6 separate regions of the Homo sapiens genome follow, and all the other regions are reported to be linked to region 5. Evidence: microRNA targets listed by miRTarBase, many of them from high-throughput screens and not tested one by one. Region 5 holds a microRNA gene; each other region holds the end of a gene's coding sequence.
What was found. The annotated mature microRNA hsa-miR-324-3p reads CCCACUGCCCCAGGUGCUGCUGG and lies in region 5 at 2,710-2,732, opposite strand. An mRNA with a match to its seed (bases 2 to 7 or 8) in the 3' UTR can be bound and repressed. Matches are read on the target gene's strand: a 7mer-m8 pairs with bases 2 to 8, a 7mer-A1 pairs with bases 2 to 7 and ends in A, and an 8mer does both.

Region 1 (4,107 bases), not on the chromosome of region 5:
TTCAAGGTTAGGAGGGTAAATTAGAGAAAACTTACTGTTTTCTTTTTTAAAAAGTTTGACCAATATTTTAAAGGTACAGAAGATGGCGTAATTTGCTAAAGAGAGGCAGGAAAAAATGGCATGTACAAAGGCTTTATTTGATATTTGTTTAGTGTGTTTCATGCAAGCAATAGAATAGATCATATAGAGAAACCATTGAGTGGTTAAATGTTGCTTTTCTTTGTTTTGTGAATGTTCTAGCTATAAAAATACCTTTTGTATTCAACTCTGTTGAGAGAGATGAGTATTTAAAAGTGTCACCTTTTTTTTCTTTTCTTTTTTTTTTTTTTGGGTAAATTCCTAAATACATTTTAACCTAAAGTTTCAGGAAGAGTCTTTGGTGGATGACTCATTACTTCAAGATGATGATGAAGAAGAAGAGGACAATGAATCTCGTTCTTGGAGAAGATGATTTGACTGATCATTGATCTGCATATGCTAGAACTCTACCTGTGTTTCATTAGTATTATCTAATGTACTTTTACATATTTGTAAAAACAATTTTTGGTAAAATGTGATGAAGATGGATTTCACAAATAGACAAAAAAGAAGAAAACTACCTTCTGATCTTGTATTTTGAAAGATTGATGTTTGCATTTTACTTCAGTAAACAATTGCTAAAGACATCACACTAGAAACATATGCAATGTTTTTATTACATACTTCTACTGGACATCACAGAATTCTTTGGGTTCTTTGTAATTTAATGAATAGGTCTGAAAACTTATGACCAATACTTGTTATAACTTAGAGGACTTTGTTTTATTCCAAATAAGGAATGAATTTGCATTTAAAATCTTAATGAATGTTTTCAAAACTGAATAGATAACATAGTACTCTAACTAAAGTCTCCAAGTTATGTATTATAATATTACATAGTAGTATGCTTAGGCTTTACTATGTATTAGCCTTTTGTTGGACTGTGTATGTATTTTACCATATGGGTTTTAATGATAATGGTGTATGACTGCTTTACATGAGTCCTTATGCATCCAGATGTTATAATAAAGTGGAATGGTCTCTTTAAAAAAAAAAAAGGAAAGAAAAGAGAAAAGCAATGACAAAAAAAAAAAAAAAAAAAAAGCCAAGACAATGTTCCTTGATTTAAAAAAAAAAAGAAAAGAAAAAAGAAAAGAAAAAAATTAAAATAGACCATTCCAGATGGTGATCTACCCTTCCCCCCAATTATCACAAAAGGAGCTATAATCACTAACTTATTCTTAATAATAATGGTTACTGGTACCCTTACAATAATGTACAATCCAATGTTTAAAAATTATACCACTTGAGTTTGGTTTGATCCTATAAATTTTCAACAAATGTCTTAAAATTTAAAAGCAGGCTGATTAGTTTGGAACCAGACTGCAAGTAGAGCTAACATTTGGTGAATAAGAAAACATCACATTACATTTTGGATGTATGAAAGAAAACTTGACCATTTGAAGATATATGAATAAAGAAATGTACTATAGATACTACTTTAGGAAAACACTGTTTGGTAAGTGTTCCAGTCTGATATTTTAAGTGTGTACTTCCTATACTTGTATAAAAATCTTTGATGTTTGCAACAATACTGTGATTTTTTTAAGTGGATTTCTTTTGCAAGTGAACATGATCATTGAAAGTTGATATGGCAGTTTCCAGGAAATAAATGCATTCTTTGTAGAATGGGGGTGGGAGATTACATATTTATATTTTCAAATTCATCATTTTGATTGCAAGTGTTTCTGCCTCTCTTGAGATTATAGTGATAATATTAAAAAATCACATTTAAAAAATTACTTTCTTCCATATTGGGGTCCTCACAATCAAAAGCTGTTGTTCCACCACCACCATAGTCTTCTGCCAGTGGAGTAACTTAAGGATGCTGTTCTTTTTCTTCTTCCCCATACACCCCTAATTGGGGTTGAAGTTGTGTGTATTTTCTTGATGGTAACACTATTTCATAGAAATGCTTTGCCTTGCAATTCGTGTCTACGTTTATATTTAAAATTTCAAAATCAGATTTCAGTTGTCAAAATAGTGACTTTGCTCAAAAAGTCACTATTTTTACTTATATATTTAAATCAAAGATCTATTTTTATGTAGTCTCTTGTATGTTGACTATGTGCTATTCTGATTCATTAGGTAAGTTTGTTTTCTTTTCTTTTTAGTAGTCGTGAAAGGTGCCAAATTGGCAGAGGCTCACGTTTCTTCTCTTTACACCAAACAGGTATTACAAAGAAAGTAAATCTTTCAAAGGCCAGTTAAATCTCCATGCTGATTTTTGGCTTTATAATTTGATTAGTATGTTTTAGCCTGATATTTCAAAAATTATAAAATTCCCTTACAATGTAACTGAAAATACATATTCTGTTTATTTCAGTCCATGAATAGCTAATCAGTTTTCCTAGAACTTAAAATGTTTTAAGCCATGTTGCTTTGAATGAATCAGAAGACAAATATATTTCAGCGTGATCCCAAAGAATGGAGATTAAATCTTACCAACATTAATTAGGTTTACAATTATATTATTCATAGTATTAATATTATTTTAATTATAAATATTACTTAGTATTAAGTTGCTACTGAATTTTTTACTTGTTTATAAATACTAGCACTCTACATGTACTTTCATATGTTTTCATTTAAAACTTAGGAAGGAGTTGTTCATTTCCATTTTATAGATAAGGAAACTTAGGCTAATAGAGATGGAATGATTTGCCCAGTCATAGCTAGTGGGTGAAAATAGATTTGAATGCAAGCATTCTGATTTCAGTGCCAATTTTTTTTTTTTTTAACTCTACGTTGATGCTGCTGCTTTCCTAATTATTGATGGAGTGGAACATGAGATTGTGTTTATAGTAAATATGGTAGTTCTTGCCTCAAAGATACTGCACAAAATTAGCAGACTACTTGGTCATTCGCCAGTTCATACTTATACCCTCCCTTTTAATACAGCACTTTGTTCATATCTCTGTTACAGTACTTACATTGTAATATAATTTATCTGGTTTATGTCTGTCTTCCCCACTAGATTACAAGCTCCTCTAGGAAGGTGGACCATGTCTTATTCATCATTTTATCTTTAGTGCTTATCACAAAGCCAGGCTTATAGTGGGCACTCAAATGTTTGTTGGATGAATTAATGAATGAATGAATGCATATTTAAATATCCAATCATAGAGTGACAAATACCTCCCTTGTTAATTCTTATCAATTTTCCAAAAATCTCTTGAAGATCTCCTCAGTCACTGGGAGCATTTTGCTAAGCAATTGATACAGTTTGAGTTTGTCACTTGTGGGGTTACAAGTACTGATGGAGGTATACACATATGTAGGCTTAGTGGAATTTCCACAACATTTAGTAAGGCATTAATATTTTGGACTAATAAATGTTGTCTGTTTCAGAGGTAAAATACACTTTTGGTTTCTGTCAGTGTATATGATTAGAAATGCTAAGAGCCACCAGTCTAGTCCATCCCACTAATTTTTATATCCAAAGGTGATCTAGTTTAGAATACTAGACAAGGTTTATATGATATTTAGTTTTTGGTCCCAATTCTGCAACTAACTCTGTGGCCTTAGACAAGTCTCTTGCCTTATCCAGGGCTGTTTCCTTGTCTGTAAAATAAAGAGTTGGACTAGATGATCTCTAAGGTCCCTTTTACATCTATAGTTTCCTTGGTACTATATTAGTGTTTGAGACAAAACAATTTAATATATCTAAGCCAGTTCTCCCTGTTATCGTTGTTGTTTTCTATCATTTTATCATTGGAAACAACTTGGATTTGGTTATGGTAATTTATATGATGCCTCTTGGTACAGTTTTGTGTATAGTGTTCCTACATGCTTGCATTTGCCAGTACAAATTACATTCAGCCTATAAAATAGAGATGAACTTCTGTATTCACCAGCACTTCCTTTTTCCAATTGTAACTTTTCATTTTCCTTCTAAATTCAGAGTTTTAAAGTAGAAGTACTTGCTAGTAATGCAGATAGAGTCAGTTCTCTCACCAATATGGATTTAAATTGTCCTTTCCATCTCAGTTTACTCTTTTTTAAAAAAAAAACAAACCAATATGCTAC
Region 2 (4,107 bases), not on the chromosome of region 5:
AAAGCAATAAGCTCTTTGGTCTTCTTAAGATGGCTACACCTCAATTTAAGATGGGGTATTCTTTCACTAGTTGAGGAGTAGAAGAGGATGACCAGCTAGACTCCCATGGAATTGGAACTCCTATTCCTTGCTTAGACATTACAGGTTATGCTTTGAGATCTCTTTGGGGTGAAGGATTGAAATTAAACCCTGAGCCACCGTGTCCTTGTAGAGCACAGAGTAGAGAACAACTGGCAGCTTTGAAAAAACACCATGAAGAAGAAATCGTTCATCATAAGAAGGAGATTGAGCGTCTGCAGAAAGAAATTGAGCGCCATAAGCAGAAGATCAAAATGCTAAAACATGATGATTAAGTGCACACCGTGTGCCATAGAATGGCACATGTCATTGCCCACTTCTGTGTAGACATGGTTCTGGTTTAACTAATATTTGTCTGTGTGCTACTAACAGATTATAATAAATTGTCATCAGTGAACTGTGTTTGATGCCTTCTTCTATCTGGAAGAGATAGACAGACACCAATGGACTGCTAAAATGGATTAGAGGCGTCCCTGCATCCAGGAACCCACAGACAATGCACAGTGTGATAAGTGCTATGAAACAACACGAGTTGGGGGGATAGGTGTGACACAGACAAAGTACCCCTCCCCGTCTAATTAGAGGTGTTCAGAGAAAGCTTCCTGAAGGATAAATCCCAATCTGAAGCATAAAGATCAGGAGGATCCTGGAGATCCGAAGGAGTCATTGCTTCAAAAGATACAATTAGGCCAGGTGCGGTGGCTCATGCCTGTAATCCCAGCACTTTGGAAGGCCAAGGTGGGTGGATCACCTGAGGTCAGGAGTTCAAGACCAGCCTGGACAACAGTAAAACCCCATCTCTATTAAAAATACAAAAATTAGCCAGGTGTGGTGGCACGCACCTGTAGTCCCAGCTACTCAGGAGGCTGAGGCAGGAAAACCACTTGAACCTGGGAGGTGTAGGTTGCAGTGAGCCGAGACTGTGCCACTGCACTCCAGTCTGGGTGACAGAATGAGACTCTGTCTCAAAAAAAAAAAAAAAAAAGATACAATTGAAAGTACCATCAGTTAAAACAGCATTTTGCATTTTTAAAATGGTTTAGAGGATACTTAATATGAGCTAGTCATCCTTGTTCTAATTTTGTAGATTGAGAGAACTGGAATTAGAAATCATGTGATTTATACAGTCACTCAGCACCTTGGCAGTGAGACTTGTGTCCAGGTTTTTTGACTACTAAACCAAGTCTGTTATTAGCAGAAAATCAGAATTATTTCTTAGGTTATATTTTGCTTTGCCAAGTATTTTGTTTCAAATTAGACTTGAGGGCCTAGTATAACTAAATTATTATACAAACTAGTTGTGTAACTCCTCTAGGCAAAAAAATTTGAGGTGACATTTGGGCCATTAGCAAAACATTTTCAGTTCACCAGTTCAGTAGAGTATTTGCCCAGGATTGTAATGAGTTATTTGTTCTAAGACCCTATCTATCTCACAAGGGCCTGTAGGACCATTGAGTGATAAAAGCTTGGAGAAGTCGCATTGACCTTGTCTGTACAGACAAAACACTAGATAGTTTGACTTGCCCATGAAACTGAACACAGCCAGGTGTGGTATGTGCCTACAGTTCAGCTACTTGGCAGTCTGAGGCAAGACGATTGCTTGAGCCCAGGAGTTCCAGACATGCCTGGGCAGCATTTTGACCCCATCTCTTTAAAAAAAAAAACAAAAAACAAAAAACTAAACTTTGAATTATAATGATTATAATGTTGCTGAATCTCAGCACTGAGGCCTCAGTAGTGCCTATAAATCTTGCAAGTGGCCAGCAACAAAATAACCTGAAAAGATGAAGTTCAAGAAACAATCATACTAAGTCAAATGCCTTTTATTTTAACATTATTAACAGTGCAACACTTGAAAAGTTTAAAAATTGGAAACAAGTATTAGCAAACATCTTTAATTTTGCATATTTGTAACCAAAAAAACAAGGTATACAAAATCCCCTGAATTTGTACATGATGGTGTTTTTTTGACTTATAATCAACAATTGCCTTACTAAGAGTGATGTTCCTGAATTGTTTCCTCAGTAAAGGTGTACCATAGGCTGGGTGCGATGGCTCATGCCTGTAATCCCAGCACTTTGAGAGGCCGAGGCAGGCGGATCATCTGAGGTCAGGAGTTCAAGACCAGCCTGGCTAACATGGCAAAACCCCATCTCTACTAAAAATACAAAAATTAGCCATGTGTGGTGTTGGGCACCTGTAATCCCCGCTACTCGGGAGGCTGAGGCAGGAGAATTACTTGAACCTGGGAGGCAGAGGTTGCAGTGAGCTGAGATTGTGCCACTGTACTCCAGCCTGAGAGACAGAGTGAGACTCCATCTCAACAACAACCAAAAAAAGATTAAATAGGCTAATTTAAATATATCTGAACTTTGTGAAAATGGTAACTCATGGTCTTTTTGTTATGATATACCTGTGGTTAATTTTTCTATCATGCTGCAGTAAAAGCAAGATGTAAATACTGAGTAATATCACAAACATGTTTGAATCCTAAAAGAATTTATGTGACATGAGCCAGTAACCACTGAAAAAACAGCACAGGTCATAGGTGGTTCTTAGAATCAGGATAATTTGGAAAATACTACAGCAGTGGTTCCATGAGCCAGCAGTGTCAGCATCACCTGGGAACTTGTTAGAAATGCAAATTCTCGGCAGGGCGCGGTGGCTCTTGCCTGTAATCCCAGCAATTTGGGAGGCCGAGGTGGGTGGGTCACAAGGTCAGGAGTTCGAGACCAGCCTGGCCAATATGGTAAAACCCCGTCTCTACTAAAAATCCAAAAATTAGCTGAGCATGGTGGCGGGCACCTGTAGTCCCAGCTACTCGGGAGGCTGAGGCAGAAGAATCGCTTGAACCGGGAGGCGGAGGTTGCAGTGAGCCAAGATCGCACCACTGCACTCCAGTCTGGGCAACAGAGCAAGACTCCGTCTAAAAAAAAAAAAAAAAGAAATGTAAATTCTCAGGCCCCACCACAAACCTGCTGAAACGAGGGGTTTGACTCAGCAATCCTTTAACAAGCCCTCCGGTTGATTCTGTCATGTATGCACCAAAGTTTGACGATCATTGTAGTACAGGTAGTTTCTCATGGAATCTGCTGGCATTTTTGGGTAAACACTTTTATAAAGACAGATTATTAGGTATAATAAAAGTAACTATATATGTTTAATATAATTCATAATATGAATGTGACTTTAGAATTTAGAAATAAATGGTTCTTGTATGGAACTTGTTAACATTTGAGAACACAGCATTCCACAGAATACAGTTTGGGAAATACTTCACTTGTATAATATATTTATTGCCTTAGTCAAAATTCTTTTTGTCCTCCGCCTCCCACTGCTTCACTTGACTAGCCTAAAAAAATAAAAAATAAAATCCTTTTTGTTTACATGTAACAGAAACCAGCACTGGCTGTCTAAAGGGGAAGAAAAAGAGTAATTTACTGGAAGAAATAGGGGCTATTGTCTCACAGAATCTCAAGAAGATTTCAGCAAACAAGACTCAGGAAAAAAAGGGACAGCAGTAGCCAGAGGAGTTCTGTGAACTTACAGGAGCAGATCTGTCTAAGCAACTTCTAAACCCTCTGGGTCAGAATCGGGCTGGCTGGGCTGGGCGCAGTGGCTCCCCGCTGTAATCCCAGCACTTTGGGAGGCAAAGGCGGACGGATCACTTGATCCCAGGAGCTTGAGACCAGCCTGGGTAACATGACCAAACCCCATTTCTGCAGAAAATACAAAATAATAATAATAATAATAATAATGGCGGTACAGGCCTGCAGTCCCAGCTACCTGGGAGGCTGAGGTTGAAGTGAGCTGTGATCATGGCACTGTACTCCAGCCTAGGCAACAGAGTGAGACCCTGTTTCCAAAAAAAAAAAGAATCATTGGGGTGCTTTTTTTTATATATTTGAAAGAGTTCTATAGAATTTTATGCAGTGAAGTTATTTAACAATCGCAGAATTAATGGAGCACTTTAAAATTATTTGCTCATTAAATCTCATATTTTTAGCAAATAGATCCATTCCATTAGTT
Region 3 (4,107 bases), not on the chromosome of region 5:
GGCCACCGGGAGCGACACGTCGCTGGACGCCAGCCCCAGCAGCTCCGCGGGCAGCCTGCAGACCACGCTCGAGGACAGCCTGACCCTGAGCGACAGCCCCCGGCGTGCCCTGGGGCCGCCCGCGCCTGCTCCAGGACCCCGGGCCGGCCTGTCCCCCGCCGCTCGCCGCCGCCTGAGCCTGCGCGGCCGGGGCCTCTTCAGCCTGCGGGGGCTGCGGGCGCATCAGCGCAGCCACAGCAGCGGGGGCTCCACCAGCCCGGGCTGCACCCACCACGACTCCATGGACCCCTCGGACGAGGAGGGCCGCGGTGGCGCGGGCGGCGGGGGCGCGGGCAGCGAGCACTCGGAGACCCTCAGCAGCCTCTCGCTCACCTCCCTCTTCTGCCCGCCGCCCCCGCCGCCAGCCCCCGGCCTCACGCCCGCCAGGAAGTTCAGCAGCACCAGCAGCCTGGCCGCCCCCGGCCGCCCCCACGCCGCCGCCCTGGCCCACGGCCTGGCCCGGAGCCCCTCGTGGGCCGCGGACCGCAGCAAGGACCCCCCCGGCCGGGCACCGCTGCCCATGGGCCTGGGCCCCTTGGCGCCCCCGCCGCAACCGCTCCCCGGAGAGCTGGAGCCGGGAGACGCCGCCAGCAAGAGGAAGAGATGAGGGTCGCAGGGGCCCCCGGCCGCCCACCGCCCGCCCCGTCTCACCTTCTTTACCTCAGGAGCCAGGAGCAGACAGCAATACTTCGTCCACACCTGGGATCGCGCAGGGCCCGCAGGGCACAGGCGCCCGACAGCCGGGCTGAGCGGAGTCTGGGTTAGCCAGGCCTGCGTGGCCCATGGTGGCCCTTCCAGTGCATATACATACATATATATATATATATGCATATATATATATATATATATATATATGTGTATACACACACACATAGACAGACATATATATATATATTTATTTTTTTTACTGAGAGCTTATGACTTCCAGAAAGTGCTAAAGGTGGGAGGTGGGCCAGGGCCTGGACGGGGCTTTTGTCTGATGCTCTGGGATTCTGGCCAGACCCACCCCAGGGCACATGTCCTGCGGGGGCGTCCCAGCTGTGTTTTTTGATGTCTCCTCCCTGGTTAAGAGTAGCTTGGAGAGGACCCTCAGGCCTCTGAGGGCACCAGGCCCTGGAGAAGAGGTGCAATTCAGGGTGTGTGTGTGTTTTTTTTCCTTTAAAGAAGAAACGCTGCTAAGATCCCACGTGGCTCCCACGTGTCGGGGTGTCTGTCCTGTCATCCTGACTGTCTCGTTATTGTGAAGTCTTTCGTAGACACCCCAGAGCACACACATCCCCTTAGTCCACCGGTTAGATGTCTCTCTTTAGAAAAATCAGGGGTGAGTAGCTGTGTTTCCTTAGGCCTGGGGTAGGGGATGGAGAGCAGCTCCAAGGCTGAGCTGGGGCTCTGGCCCCAGGTGAGGTCCCCAGCTCCTGAGCACTTCTGAGGGGGTGGGTTCCACCCCCAGGAGGGCGGGGGTGGGTGGAGCAGGAGTGGAGGCAGCCTGCAGAGGAAGGGTGCGGGAGACTGAGCCGGCAGTGGCTTGCTTGGAGGGGCTAGGGTACCCGCCTGGTCTCGGCTGGCTCCAGCTGCCCTGCAGGTGCCCCTGGGCTCAGGTAGTTAGTTGTTCAGCCACTAATGCCTTTTATCCCCCATATGGGCGCTGAGCTGTGGCTGTTCCTGGACACTGTGCTGTCCCCGTCCTGAGCAACTATGCCCCCGCCCCAGTAGGTTCAAGGCAAAGCAGCTCTGACCGAATTCTAGGCAGGGGTGGGGGCACCTGCCTGGGCCCTGGGTCCAGCCGCATCCCCATGCCCAGCCTTTCGCGTCACCTGGAGGCCACATCTTCCCACCCCACCTGCCAGCCCCTGTCTCTCCTCCCCGCTGCCCCTAACTGCAGCTCAGCTTTCACTATAGCAGTGCTTCCCAAACGGGTTCTAGACTTGGGTGTTTGATTTGAAGAGTTACGCATTTATTTCACTATTTATTGGGAAAAAAATGCATTGAACCCGTGATTTCACAGACATTTTGCTTAGGTCAAGGCTACTTTTTAAAAAGGGAGTGACTTTCATGAAGTCAGTTTGAAGAAGGAGGTTGGGAGCATGTTGGTGGCAGTGATCTGGAGAGGCTGCAGGGGCCACGAGTTTGCAGATGCTGTACTTCAGCAATAACCTTGCCTTTGCTAAGACCCCCTCCGAGGGCTTCAGGGGGGCCTGCCAAGGGGGGGCCTTGTTCTTGTTCCCAAACTCTGACTTGGAAGAACTCAGCTTGTGGCCGGGCTGGTGAGGGTGTGGGGTGCGCCCTTCCCTTTTGGGCTGAGGGAGAGGGGGCCGGGAGGGGTTGTCAAGCCCACCCGGGAAACTGAGCCCTGGAGAGGGGAAGCAGCCAGCCCAGGATGCTTCAGGGCCCTGGCAGCAAAGAAGCTGGGGTGGTGTGGAGGGCCCTACTCCACACCCTAGAGCTGTGATGCTGAGCAAGGTGCCTGTGGCGGAAGGAACTGCCCAGTCCTCCCTGGGGGCAGGTAGACCTGTGGGGATGGCTCGGTCCAAGCCCAACACTGCCCGCTCCAGAGAGCCTCAGCCCTGCCTCCCTTTCCACAGAGGTGGTTTTATGTGGAACGAGGTACCTTGTCTGGGGAAGAAGTGGAGCTGGGCAGGCTTGACTGCTCCTGGCTGACCCTGAGCTCTCGCAGTTGGAGGGAAGCAGACAGACTTGACTTTTTGCAAGTCCGCGTGTTGCTGGAGGGACACGTGTATTGGAGCCCAGAAGAGGGGCTGTGTGGCCTGGGAATACCATGTGGAAGGTTGGGCTTCAAGTTAACAGGATCAGACACCAGTCAAGCAGCCTCAGGTCATCTTGCGACTCCACTGAGCAGCCTTTCCTGTTGTCACATGGGTTCAGAGCAGCTGAGCAGGGAACACGTCCTAGGCAGGTCTGACGTGAAACCTCCCCTTACCCTGAACCGTGTGACTCTGCAAGCAGACACCTCGAGGCAGGTGTTCTAGGCAAAGGGATGGGCATGAGCGAAGGCTCCAGGGTCCACAGAGCAGGGAGTGTGGAGAAGGTGGAAGAGCTGAGCTCAGAGGCAGAGAAGCTCCTTGCAGGGAGCACTGGGAGATGGCCTGGCCCGTCCCAGGCTCCTGGAGGCCCCACCTGCCGATCCCAGGCACTTGACCTTGTTCCTGTGGGTGACAGAGATGAGAACCAGGGAAGCTGTGATCCACTGGCCAGGACAAGTCAACATGGGTGAGGGTTGGGCAAAGGGCCCTTCCTTCCTCCCCAACCCTGTGGTCTGGGGCCATGGCCTCAGGCTTGTGTCTATCACAAAAGCACAAACTTGCCCTAACCCACATGGGCCTGGCTGTGGGGAAAGTGGGGACCCAGGTCCCTGAGCTGTCTGCTGGGCTCCGTAGAGCGGTGGTGGGCAGGCACCTTGGCATCTGTGCAGAGACGGCCCAGTCTGGCCAAATCCTCTTCCTCTCCCCTGCTCTACCTTCTCCGGCACCAGGCAGCCCCTTAAAGGAGGACAAAGTGTGTAAAGCCCGTCTGCTGTCTTCCCCCAAATCCTCAGCTCAGAGCCTTCCGCTTCCAGGGCCAACCCCAGCCCCGTTTGCTGCGTTGTGTAAGGGCTTGGGGTCTTAGAAGCTGCTCTTTAGCCCAGATACACATACTCTTTTTTGTCTTTGTGCAATAATCAGTGTTCCTGGCAGAGCCTGGGCCAAGCTGCAGCCTACTGAGGAGGCAGAGGCCACCTCCTCCAGAAAGCCCTCGGCCTGGGCCGCCGCCGTGACTCTAGCACTCTCAGTCGCTGTACAGTTTCTATGGTGTGAATGAACTTCCCTCCTAGTTGCTGATGGCGCTGGTACCTGCTGGCCCATGGCCCGGGTGTAGAGAAACCAAGCGGCAGCCACCACCAGTGTTGTTTTGAATAAAAGCCCAGAAGCCTATTTAAGAATTTCTCCGTGTGTCTCTGCTGTTCTTTCCCCAGCGGGGTGGGTGTCAAGCTGAGGCTTCTCTCAAGGGAGGGGTGGCAGTGTCTCCTCCCCCATTTTCAGGCATGGGGCCTGGGGCGTCGGGGACCTAGAA
Region 4 (4,107 bases), not on the chromosome of region 5:
GATGGCTGTGTCCCCACAGTATATTTAGGCTTTGGTTCAAATTATATCTGCACAGAAAAGCCTATCCTGAAAACTCTTCCTAAAATAACTCAGGTTACAATCTATGAACTTACCAGGCTTTATATTTCTTCCTAGCACTTAACTGAATTCGATTTTGTATTTATCTTACTCAGTCTCCTTCACCAGACTGTATGTCATATCAAAGCCAGCACTTTGCCTGTTTTGTTCATTGATGTGTCTCCATTGCCTACAACATGCCTGCCATGGTGTAGAAGCTCAAAAAATATTTTCAAAGAAGTAAATTACTCAATATGGAGTCAGGGATTGAATTCTGCCACAATACTATATGGCAAATGTCTATTACTTTTATAAAGAGAACTCACCATTTATAAACTGGATTAAATCTCATTAGATCAAGGGAAATAACTCTGGATAGAGAAAACAGGAACCCTGTTTCTAGGGAAACTAATAATTTTTTGCCACCAGGCCTGCTCAAAGAGAAATGATTAAGGAAGTTCGCACAAAAAGGAAATAACTAAAGGAAATATTACATCAGGAATGAAGAAAAAGGAACAGAAAGGGTAAATATATTATAAAATATAATATTCTTTTGAGTTTTAAACATTGGGTTTGCTGGTTGGAAGCAAAAGTTACAATTTTACTTGATATGGTTCTCAGTGGATGTAGAGATGCTTAATATCATTTTGTGTTAGGGGTGTGTAAGTTGAGGCCATGATCATATACCACCACACACCTAATAGGAAAGCTAAAGCACACTGGCAATGCCAAGAGCTAGAAAGGGCATGGAATGCTTACACATTGGTGGTGGGAATGTAAACTAGTACAGCCACTCTGGGAAAGAGTTTGGCCATTTCTTATAAAGTTAAACACATTTACCATATTCGCCAGCAGTCATGCCCCCAGTGTCTATCCCAAATATATAAAAACTTAACGTTCGCACAATATCGGGTACACAAATAGTCACAGCATCTTTATTTATAACAGCAAAACACTGGAAACAACCCAAATGTCCATCAACAGTGAATGGATACACAAACCCTGGTGCATCCATTTAAAAGAATACTAACTCAGTAACAAAAATTAAAACTATTTAGACACCTAACAACTTGGATAGATCTTAAGGGTAATTTGCTGAGTGAACAAAGCCCTATCTCAAAGCTTGCGTACCTTACGATTCCATTTTAATAGCATTCTTGAAATAACAAAATTAGGGTAATGGGATCAGTGGCTACCATGGGTCATATTGGGAGGACAGTGTGAGTATAAAGAGGTAGCAAGAGGAGGCCAGGCGTGGTGGCTCATGCCTGTAATCCCAGCACTTTGGGAGGCTGAGGCGGGTGGACCGCCCGGGGTCGAGAGTTCAAGGCCAGCCTGGCCAACACAGTGAAACCCCGTCTCTACTAAAAATACAAAAATTAGTCGAGCGTGGTCGTGGGTGCCTGTAATCCCAGCTACTTAGGAGGCTGAGGCAGGAAAATCTCTTGAACCTGGGAGGCGGGGTTGCAGTGAGCCAAGATCGTGCTATTACACTCCAACCTGGGCAACAAGAGCAGAACTCCGTGGTTTTTATTATTATGGTTATGTAAGATAACATTGATGATGCTAAGCAAAGAATACTCAGGAAACTTTTGTATATTTTGTAATCTCTTGTGAATCTAGAATTATTTCAAAACAAATTTTAGAAAAATAACATTTAAGGCATTTTTGTAAACTACATAATGGTACCTAGTAACTTGGATAAACACATCCAAATATACTGAATTACATTTATCAGTAAATTGAAAAAAATAAATTTGGGGCCTATAATATGTAAGAACTAATAAATAACACCAGATTGGCACAGAAAACACCTGTGTTATATATAGGATTAAAATTTAATCAGTGATAAGAACAGCCCGCTTTACAATTATGGAATCATTGATAATATGATGCAAGGTATGCTGTCACAGAATAGATATCAAGTGTATCATGAGTTTAGATTTGTGACAGTCCTCAAATATGGTTTTTTTTTTTTTTTTTTGAGGCAGAGTTTCGCTCTTGTTGCCCAGGCTGGAATGCAATGGCGCAATCTTGGCTCACTGAAACCTCTGCCTCCCAGGTTCAAGTGATTCTCCAGCTTAGCCTCCAGAGTAGCTGGGATTACAAGCGTGAGCCACCATGCTCGGCTAATTTTGTATTTTTAGTAGAGAGGGGGGCTTCACCATGTTGGTCAGGCTGGTCTCGAACTCCCGACCTCAAGTGATCCACCCACCTTGGCCTCCCAAAGTGCTGGGATTACAGGTGCAAGCCACCATGCCCGGCATTATGTATCATTTTCATGAGACTTTTTTACTTCATGAATTTCCTGATCCTTTTTAAAGTTACTCTTCATATAAGTTTTATTTCTGTATGAAGTAATGATGATGAGGCAGCATGTATCACTGAAATCCTCGTGTATTCACTGCCATCTGAAACTTGTTCTCCAGTATGAAATATATCTGCCAACTGTTAAGGTTTTATTTCTGGGCAAAGGCTTTCCCATGATAATGCTGCTAGTATGTGTAAGTTCATTGATGATCTATTATGATCACTGAAGAGATAGGGTCTTTCTTCCCATAGAAGGCTTTCCTAGCCTACTCCTTTGTAAGATTTATCTCAGTAAATACTTTTCAAGACATAGTTACTTAGAAAATTTTCAAGACTTTTCTGCATTGGATGTATCAAGTTTATTTCCTACATGTTTATTGTGACATAAAATATGAGGTAATTAATCACCGAAGGCACTAGTGCATTCTCTGCATTCATTAAAATTCGCTCCTGGAAATTGCATTGTCTTCCAAGGGTGAAAATCTAGCAACAGGCTGCTCTACACTGCCTATATGCATGTATGCTAGGAGCACACTGCTGTTTAATCAGTTCACATTACTAACGTGGTTTTCTCTCTGCATGAATTTGTTTGTATGTAATCAGTTCAGATTCTCTGCAAAAGGACTATGTACCTTACACATTTGTCATGTGGACGTTGTCATAGTTTTAATGAAGGTTGACAAATGAAAGGTTACCCCCAATCCACAGACTCTCTCTCAGATGAGTAATTTTCTATACATTGGTACATCAAAGAATTCAGAGCCTGAATTCATGTTGAAGCCTTTCTGACATTGATAGCATTCATCCTAGTGAATAACACTGGATTTTGAAATATGATTTTTCATACTCAGTACACATGTAGAAAATCTATACTGTGAAATCTCTGATGTTGTACAAGGCAGATTTTCTTCCCAAAGGCATGAACATGTCCACTGCATTGTCAGGGTTTGTTTCCATTATGAGTTCGCTGATGTACAATGAGATTTCTCTTTGAGGAGAAGGCTTTTCTACATTCACTGCATACAAAGGGTTTCTCTCCTGTATGAGTTCGTTGATGAACAATTAGACGGCTCTTCATAGTGAAGCCTTTACCACATTCATTACATCCATAAGGTTTTTCTCCAGTATGAACTTGCTTATGTAAAGCAAGCTCTGTTTCCTTGGCAAAGCCTCTTCCACATTCACTACATATACAAGATTTCTCTTCTGTATGAATTTGCTGATGTACAATGAGATAGCGTTTCATGGTGAAGCCTTTTCCACATTCACTGCACATAAAGGGTTTCTCTCCAGTATGAGTTCGCTGGTGTACAACAAGATTGCTCTTAAAGGCAAAACCTTTTCCACATTCATTGCATATGTACGGTTTCTCTCCAGTATGAGTTCGCTGATGTAACATCAGTCCGCTATTCACAATGAAACCTTTCCCACATTCACTGCACCTGTAAGGTTTCTCTCCAGTATGAGTTCGCTGATGTACAATCAGCCGACTCTTCAAGGGGAAGCCTTTCCCACATTCACTGCATGTGTAGGGCTTCTCTCCTGTATGAGTTCGCTGATGTATGATGAGCATGCTTTTCACAGTAAAACCTTTTCCACATTCACTACATAGATATGACTTCTCTACTGTATGATTTCTCTGATGTACAATAAGATTACTCTTCCTGGGAAAGCCTTTTCCACATTCACTGCATATGTAGGGTTTCTCTCCTGTATGAGTTCGTTGATGTTCGATCATAC
Region 5 (4,000 bases):
CCCAGGAATCTAAGTCCTTTGCTGTGGGAATGTTCAAAGGCCAGCTCACCACAGATCAGGTGTTCCCATACCCGTCCGGTAAGGGAAGGGATAATCAGAGCTGGGTGGGGCCAGGGTGGTTTCCCCTGCCAGCCTGGCCTGACCAGCCTGTCCCCCACCCTCTGCAGTGCTCAACGAAGAGCAGACACAGTTTCTTAAAGAGCTGGTGGAGCCTGTGTCCCGTTTCTTCGAGGTAAGGAATGACTCGGGGCTTGGTCCCTGGTGAGGTGTTTGGAGATGTTAAGCTCAAAAGGAGCCTGGATGTGGGATCCTGTGCCTTCCCCAGGAAGTGAACGATCCCGCCAAGAATGACGCTCTGGAGATGGTGGAGGAGACCACTTGGCAGGGCCTCAAGGAGCTGGGGGCCTTTGGTCTGCAAGTGCCCAGTGAGCTGGGTGGTGTGGGCCTTTGCAACACCCAGGTGAGGGCGCCCTATCGCCACATCCCAGTATGCCATACCCCAGCTTGGCAGACTCAGCTCTTTTGCCATAGACCTAGAGACTAGGGCTAAGGTCTCTTCTAAGCACCTGCCCTGGGTGCCTGTGGGATGGATGTTAACTGTCCAAACATAACACAATTTACATGCAGTCCCCTAGGCCTGAGCCATGGGCCTCACCCTGGTTCCCAAGTCCTTACAAATCTCTAAGTTGGGGATTGCCTAACAATAGACTGACTAGTAGCAAGTCACCCTCCTACCTAGACCTAAGACAGACCAGCATTCTCTGCTGTGCCCTTTGCACACCCCACTTCTTTTCTACACACTGGGGATGGCCCAGGTCAGGCACTGCCCTAGGTCAGGAACTGCCCTAGGTCAGGAACTGCCCTGTTGCCCACACTCTCCTGTTAAGGTCAGGTCCCCCTGCAGCCAGTGACAACCCCAGATTCCTGCTTCCCCTCCAGTACGCCCGTTTGGTGGAGATCGTGGGCATGCATGACCTTGGCGTGGGCATTACCCTGGGGGCCCATCAGAGCATCGGTTTCAAAGGCATCCTGCTCTTTGGCACAAAGGCCCAGAAAGAAAAATACCTCCCCAAGCTGGCATCTGGTGAGGCAACCCTAGGAGAGCCAGGGATTGGGGGGCACACTGGGCTTGGCACAGATTAGGCCAGTTGGCACTTAGATTATCAGATGGCTGAGCATTTCAGTTGGGGGAAGGTTTTGGGGAGGCATCACAGTGTGCTGGTTGGGACATGCAAAAGAACTGGATACTCCCAGGTGTTAAGGGGGAACTGCCTGCTGGAGGGATGGGGAAGTGGGCCGAGGGGACTTTGAAGCTCATCAGAACTTGGGGTAAAGTAGCTCTCTCCCCAACAGGGGAGACTGTGGCCGCTTTCTGTCTAACCGAGCCCTCAAGCGGGTCAGATGCAGCCTCCATCCGAACCTCTGCTGTGCCCAGCCCCTGTGGAAAATACTATACCCTCAATGGAAGCAAGCTTTGGATCAGGCAACCTGCCTCCCATTTCTCCCCTTCTCCTCCGCCCAATTCCAGGCCCCACTGCTCCCCGTCCTCCACGCCCTGAATATCCCATTCTTCCACAGTAATGGGGGCCTAGCAGACATCTTCACGGTCTTTGCCAAGACACCAGTTACAGATCCAGCCACAGGAGCCGTGAAGGAGAAGATCACAGCTTTTGTGGTGGAGAGGGGCTTCGGGGGCATTACCCAGTGAGTGAATTTGGGTTGGGGGAGCTTAGGACTGAGGGGCAGGACTGGGCTCCTGGGCAGATGGCTGTTGCAAGTCACCCTGGGGACGTGTGCAAAAGCCAAAGCAGGTGGACTGAATGTGGCCTTTGGGACTAATATGTATGCAACTGAGCTAAAGTTTTGGCTCCAGCAACCAAGTCCAACACAAAATAGGACATAGCCAGGCCTCCTTAGCCCTCAGGGCCTGAGGGGAAGTGGTGGCTGTAGCCTCTAATAGTCTAGTGGTCGTCATTCCTCCCTGGTGCATAAGGAGCGAAGGAGCAGTTTTTCCCCCAGTGACAACCTGTTGAACACACCTCTGCTTTCCCACACTGCCCTGACACAGTGGGCCCCCTGAGAAGAAGATGGGCATCAAGGCTTCAAACACAGCAGAGGTGTTCTTTGATGGAGTACGGGTGCCATCGGAGAACGTGCTGGGTGAGGTTGGGAGTGGCTTCAAGGTTGCCATGCACATCCTCAACAATGGAAGGTTTGGCATGGCTGCGGCCCTGGCAGGTACCATGAGAGGCATCATTGCTAAGGCGGTGAGTACCCTGCCCGAGTCCCTAGGTAACCCAAACAGAAGTCTCACTGTCCCCCTTGCCATGTGTCCCTGATCACTTGCAGGCACTCCCTACACTAGAAACTCCTCCCCTACCAGCAGCCCGACTTGCTAGCTTAGGTCTCCATCCAGCGTAGACTGAACTCTGGTTGTATGCAAAACCCATCCCTCTGGCGCAAGCCCAGCCCCTCTCCTAGGGAGACTGCAGAACCACACTGAACCACAGCGGGATGTGTGGACCCTCTTCCAGGTAGATCATGCCACTAATCGTACCCAGTTTGGGGAGAAAATTCACAACTTTGGGCTGATCCAGGAGAAGCTGGCACGGATGGTTATGCTGCAGTATGTAACTGAGGTGAGGGCCTCCCAAGCCCCTCTCCCTGGAGCCCTGGGGCTTTCTTCCCAGTCGGGTCAGACTACAACCCCCAGCAGCACCTGGGGCAGTGGGTCTCCAGCTTTACACCAATGCCCTAGGGGATGCGGGGAGGCATAGTCAGCTCAGCTTCTGCGAAGAGAGACAGCAATGATGTTCTGCTCAGGTGCCTGCCAGCAGTACCAGAAGTTAATTCTACCTCATCCCTTACATCCACCCCTTTTAAGAAAACAAATACCTGGAAGCACCTGATGAACTGACCCAGAACAAGTATCTGCCTGACCTGACAAGCTAGGTCAGCCCTTATCTTGGAGATCTGGGTGATGAGGCCAAGTCTGACAAAGCCCTTTGCAATTTTCCTTCCCATGTCCCAACTATGCAACCTCAGTCCATGGCTTACATGGTGAGTGCTAACATGGACCAGGGAGCCACGGACTTCCAGATAGAGGCCGCCATCAGCAAAATCTTTGGCTCGGTGAGGTCCCAGGCATGCTGGGAGGGAGTCCAGTTTGGGTGCTCAGCTCCCAAAACCAGTCTCATCTGTTCTTTGTCCCTAGGAGGCAGCCTGGAAGGTGACAGATGAATGCATCCAAATCATGGGGGGTATGGGCTTCATGAAGGTACAGGACGGTCTTCTGCAGAGCCTCGGCTGGGCCAGGGGTGGGTAGGCACATCTCAGCACGGGCATATAATTTGTGTGGCCCTGTGCTAGGAACCTGGAGTAGAGCGTGTGCTCCGAGATCTTCGCATCTTCCGGATCTTTGAGGGGACAAATGACATTCTTCGGCTGTTTGTGGCTCTGCAGGGCTGTATGGTAAGACAGAGAATTGGGTGGGGGTAGAGGTGGGGAGGACAGTGAGTCCTGACTGCTGGACCCTCTTCCCCCATAGGACAAAGGAAAGGAGCTCTCTGGGCTTGGCAGTGCTCTAAAGAATCCCTTTGGGAATGCTGGCCTCCTGCTAGGAGAGGCAGGCAAACAGCTGAGGCGGTAGGCTTAGGGCCAGAGCCAGGGGAGGGCAGGGTGGTGTATGGCAACTAACCAGTCATTCTCCCTCTTCCTCTCAGGCGGGCAGGGCTGGGCAGCGGCCTGAGTCTCAGCGGACTTGTCCACCCGGAGTTGAGTCGGAGTGGCGAGCTGGTAAGTGGCCAGGGGTCCAGGAGAGCCTGCATCAGGGACTGCAGCCGATGGCCCCTCTGAGCCCCGCACTGTCCCCATCTCTTAAGGCAGTACGGGCTCTGGAGCAGTTTGCCACTGTGGTGGAGGCCAAGCTGATAAAACACAAGAAGGGGATTGTCAGTAAGTGAGCTCTACACCATTCCGCCCCTCCCTTTCCTCTCCTTGA
Region 6 (4,107 bases), not on the chromosome of region 5:
GTTCTCTGTTACCCCATTTTACAGATGATCAAATGGAGGCCCAGAGATATGAAGACACTTCAGACCTGTTTTCTCATCTGTGTGCAAAAAAAAAAAAAAAAAAAAAAAAGATATCCAAAACTTGGAAATGGGCAAAATGATGATTATGTGTCTTTTAAAAGTATATATTATGCATTTTCTAGGCATTTCTCCCCCAGCTGTCCTTGGACTCTCCCGGGGATAAAATTCAGTTTGACTACCTCTGATTGGGGCCCCACCCTTTCACAGTCCTGTGAACGTAGAGCAGACTTACAGCAAACTTAAGGGTGGGACCACGTCATTTGTCTGAGAAGATAACCCAACCTCCAGTCCTTACCCTAAGTAATTCTTCATCTGGCTGTTCATTTGTATCCTTTACAACAAAATGGTAATAGTAACATGTTTTCCTGAGTTCTGTGCACTGTTTTAGCAAATTACTGAGCTGGAAAAGGGGGTCATGGGAACCCCCAATTTGTAGCCCTATCACACAGAAGCATGGGTAACCTGGGGACCCTCTACTTGTAACTTGTGTCTGAAGTGCAGGGCAGTCATGTGGAAGTGAGCCCTTAACCTGTGGTGTCTTCACTTACTCTGAAAGTGTCAATTGTTAAAATTGTAGGGCCGGGCGCGGTGGCTCACGCCTGTAATCCCAGCACTCTGGGAGGCTGAGGTGGGCGGATCATGAGGTCAGGAGATCAAGACCATCCTGGCTAACACGGTGAAACCCCGTCTCTACTAAAAATACAAAAAATTAGCCGGGCGTGGTGGCGGGTGCCTGTAGGCCCAGCTACTTGGGAGGCTGAGGCAGAATGGCATGAACCCGGGAGGTGGAGCTTGCAGTGAGCCGAGATCAGGCCACTGCATTCCAGCCTGGGTGACAGAGCGACTGTCTCAAAAAAAAAAAAAAAATTGTAGGACACCCAGTTGGTGTCTGCAGAGAATTGGAGAATCGTGTGAAAAACCGACACATTTGGTATCAAAGGTCTTGTGAAAAGCAGTGTTTCTTTACTACCATTAACAGGTGATGACCCTATTTTCTCCATACTATTATACTGTCCTGGTGTACACAAATAGATTCTGCTGTATGATTTATTGAAGAAAACCACCATCTAGAAATGGACTTTTACTAAAAATTGTTCAAGGATTCTGGGACAATAACCTTCATCTTAACAAGCAAAAAGAGGGACAGAGAGAGATTTCGGATTTTTTAAAATCGGATTTCTAACTTTTTGAAGACCCAGAATATTTGGCATTACTGGAACTGCTTTGCTGCCTACCCAGAATTTGCTACAGCTGAGTTGAGGCTGCCTTCTTTAGGTAGGGGATGCACTCTTCAATTCTCCACCCTCCCTACTCCTTGTCACTCTGTGTAGCCTCATTCGTCTGTCTGACTTTGAGGACACTTGAGTATCTGTGGGCCTACAGGGATGTTTATGAGGATTTGGGGTTTGCTGGTGATCGTTAAGTCTCATTTACTAGCGATTGCTTTTCTCCTGTTTTTATCTGTGGCACGTCAGAAGTCCTGGAACATGAGGATCTGAAGGAAGAGTGATGCTCCCAGTCCAATTATCTTAAATAACTGTCCCACATTCAGAAAACCTCCAGTGGTTTTGAACCTCATTCTAAACTAAATGCAGACTAGCTTCTGTTCTAAGGAGCCTGGGGGCCAGAGACAGCATATGCCTTACAGAGCTCACAGGTGGGCATGGTAAGGAGATGGTGTGTGGCACTTGGGGGATGGCAGAAGTTATCATGTCCCTTTCTTACTACTTACTATTGGGCCTGCTGTTCTTCAGCTTCCTGATAGTTAGCTTGCCTGCTCCTATTAGTGCTTAGAATCTTTTTTTTTTAAGACAGAGTCTCACTCTGTCGCCCAGGCTGGAGTGCAGTGGCATGATCTTGGCTCACTGCAGCCTCCGCCTCCTGGGTTCAAGTGATTCTCCTGCCTCAGCATCCTGAGTAACTGGGACTATAGGCACGCACCACCATGCCTGGCTAATTTTTATATTTTTGGAAGACACGGGGTTTCACCATGTTGGCCAGGATGGTCTCAATCTCCTGACCTCATGATCCGCCCACCTTGGCCTCCCAAAGTGCTGGGATAACAGGCGTGAGCCACTGCGCCCAGCCTATTGCTTAGAATTTTTTAAGGTGTTGAGAGATTCCCTTCCAAAGAGTATCTTGAGGCTTCCAAGATCTTCATCAGAGACCTTGAAAACCACCAATGAGACTGGGAATCCAAGGTAGCCACCTTCCTTCAGGACCTGAAAAGCCATGTGTTTATGCAAGAGTTCCAGTTATTACAAAATAGAAACCCTGTAACATGCTATCTTGTTGACTACATTTTATACTTATATAAAGGGCATCTATAGTAAATGTCATTTTTGACAGCTGCATAGTATCACATGTATGCATATATAACAATGTAATATGCAAAAAAACTTACTAATTTTCACACCTTAGAGTACTGAGATTGAATACCTCTTCTTACTTTAACAGTCATTTTTTAGTATCTGTTTAAAAGCTGCCTGTTAGTGTGTCTAAATTATTTATCTTTAGATATTAATGTTTTAAGAGACAGGGTCTCACTGCCACCCAGGCTGGAGTGCAGTGGTGGTCATAGCTCACTGCAGCCTCGAATTCCTGGAGTCAGGTGATCCTCTTGCCTCAGCCTCCCAAGCAGCAAGGACTGCAGGCACATACCACCACGCCTGGCTTTTATTATTTTTTGTAGCGATGGGATCTTGCTATGTTGCCCATACAGGTCTGGAACTCATGGCCTCACGCAATCTTCCCGTCTCAGCCTCCCAAAGCACTGAGATTACAGGTCTGATCCACCATGCCCAAATACTACACTTTTATATCACAAATTTTACAAAAGTATTTCCCCATTTTGCGCTTTATCTTTTAAACTTTAAAACAAAAACATACAGGAATATTTAGTTTTTGAGTAGTCAATTTATCAGTACATACCCTGTGGATAGTTTCTAGCTTTCATCTAATACTTAGAAAGGTTTTCTCAATTACATGAAAATTAAAAATGTACTCATACCTTTTTCCTTTTTTAAATAAATCTTTATTTTTCATCTTTTCAAAAGTAATACATGCTTGTTGTCAAAAATTAAACAAATAAATTAATGTAGGTAGAGTATCTTTAGTACGGGTTTTCCTATCCAACAACAAGGCTTCTCTCTCTCTCCATTTATTCAAATTTCCTTTGTAAAGTGGCCCTCAGTGAAGACTTAAATTTCTCCATACAAGTCCTCCATAACTGTTTATTTCTAGAAAATCTACTTTTCTTGATGCTGCTGGGAACGAAATCTTTTCATTATATTTTCTAATTCCTGTTGGTACAAAACAAAGCTATTTTTGGATGTTTCTCTTTAACTGGTCATCCTTTCCTGATTTAAACTGAATAGAATAAAAACTGTTTCCATATGAAGACTCTGCCATATTCATGCCCTCTTGGAGGTTTTTCAATGGATGAATCTGATGATACTTGATCCATTTTGGCATTAACCTTAAGAGTTTTCTATATCTTTCTCATTATTAGGATTTTCCTTCACTATGGACACTCTGATGCTGACTGAGCTGGAAGCTAAACCTGAATGCTTTCCCACACACACTACACATATAGGGTTTCTTCCAAGTGTGGACTGTCTGATGTATAATGTAGTCAGAACTAAAGCTGAAGCCTTTGCCACATTCCACACATCTGAAGGGTTTCTCCCCAGTGTGGCTTCTCTGATGCCGAATTAAATGGGCATTAACATGGAAGGCTTTTCCACACTCCTTACACTGAAAGGGTTTCTCTCCTGTATGGATTCTCTGGTGCACAATATAGTTAGAACTACAGCTGAATGCTTTCTCACATTCCATACATTTGAAAGGTTTCTCCCCAGTATGTATCCTCTGATGCCTAGTTAGTTTGGCATTGATACTGAAGGCTTTCCCACATTCCTTACATTGATAGGGCTTTTCTCCAGTATGGATTCGGTGATGATCAAGTAGGTTTCTTTTAGAAGTAAAGCATCTCCCACACTCATTACATTCAAAAGGTTTCTCCCCAGTGTGAATTCTCTGATGCCG

Region 1: miRTarBase lists RBM26 as a target of hsa-miR-324-3p. Seed matches in the 3' UTR shown: 7mer-A1 at 1,886-1,892.
Region 2: the mRNA of ATP5IF1 is a reported target of hsa-miR-324-3p. The part of its 3' UTR that is shown has no 7-base or 8-base seed match.
Region 3: miRTarBase lists CACNA1I as a target of hsa-miR-324-3p. Seed matches in the 3' UTR shown: 7mer-m8 at 1,557-1,563.
Region 4: the mRNA of ZNF432 is a reported target of hsa-miR-324-3p. Seed matches in the 3' UTR shown: 8mer at 3,296-3,303.
Region 6: the mRNA of ZNF23 is a reported target of hsa-miR-324-3p. The part of its 3' UTR that is shown has no 7-base or 8-base seed match.

The regions. Positions count from the first base shown.
Region 1 is chr13:79,316,965-79,321,071 of GRCh38, reverse strand. It overlaps RBM26 (RNA binding motif protein 26), which reads left to right. Exons shown (of 22, transcript NM_001366735.2): 22 at 362-2,204. The coding sequence ends at 451. Among named protein-coding and RNA genes, the nearest start is that of RBM26, 87 kb to the left of the region's middle.
Region 2 is chr1:28,237,626-28,241,732 of GRCh38, forward strand. ATP5IF1 (ATP synthase inhibitory factor subunit 1) reads left to right here. Exons shown (of 3, transcript NM_016311.5): 3 at 212-475. The coding sequence ends at 353. Among named protein-coding and RNA genes, the nearest start is that of ATP5IF1, 3.6 kb to the left of the region's middle.
Region 3 is chr22:39,685,760-39,689,866 of GRCh38, forward strand. It overlaps CACNA1I (calcium voltage-gated channel subunit alpha1 I), which reads left to right. Exons shown (of 37, transcript NM_021096.4): 37 at 2-3,976. The coding sequence ends at 646. Among named protein-coding and RNA genes, the nearest start is that of CACNA1I, 120 kb to the left of the region's middle.
Region 4 is chr19:52,030,413-52,034,519 of GRCh38, forward strand. ZNF432 (zinc finger protein 432) reads right to left here. Exons shown (of 5, transcript NM_014650.4): 5 at 966-4,107. The coding sequence ends at 3,308. Among named protein-coding and RNA genes, the nearest start is that of ZNF614, 4.1 kb to the left of the region's middle.
Region 5 is chr17:7,220,599-7,224,598 of GRCh38, forward strand. It overlaps MIR324 (microRNA 324), which reads right to left and starts at 2,781; the gene lies at 2,699-2,781. ACADVL (acyl-CoA dehydrogenase very long chain) reads left to right here. Exons shown (of 20, transcript NM_000018.4): 4 at 6-78; 5 at 168-232; 6 at 326-460; 7 at 940-1,084; 8 at 1,354-1,483; 9 at 1,579-1,704; 10 at 2,069-2,267; 11 at 2,535-2,639; 12 at 3,046-3,132; 13 at 3,215-3,277; 14 at 3,370-3,471; 15 at 3,548-3,645; 16 at 3,723-3,795; 17 at 3,882-3,954. RefSeq lists an enhancer at 1-239.
Region 6 is chr16:71,444,526-71,448,632 of GRCh38, forward strand. It overlaps ZNF23 (zinc finger protein 23), which reads right to left. Exons shown (of 5, transcript NM_001381984.1): 5 at 3,072-4,107. The coding sequence ends at 3,568. Among named protein-coding and RNA genes, the nearest start is that of TLE7, 4.5 kb to the left of the region's middle.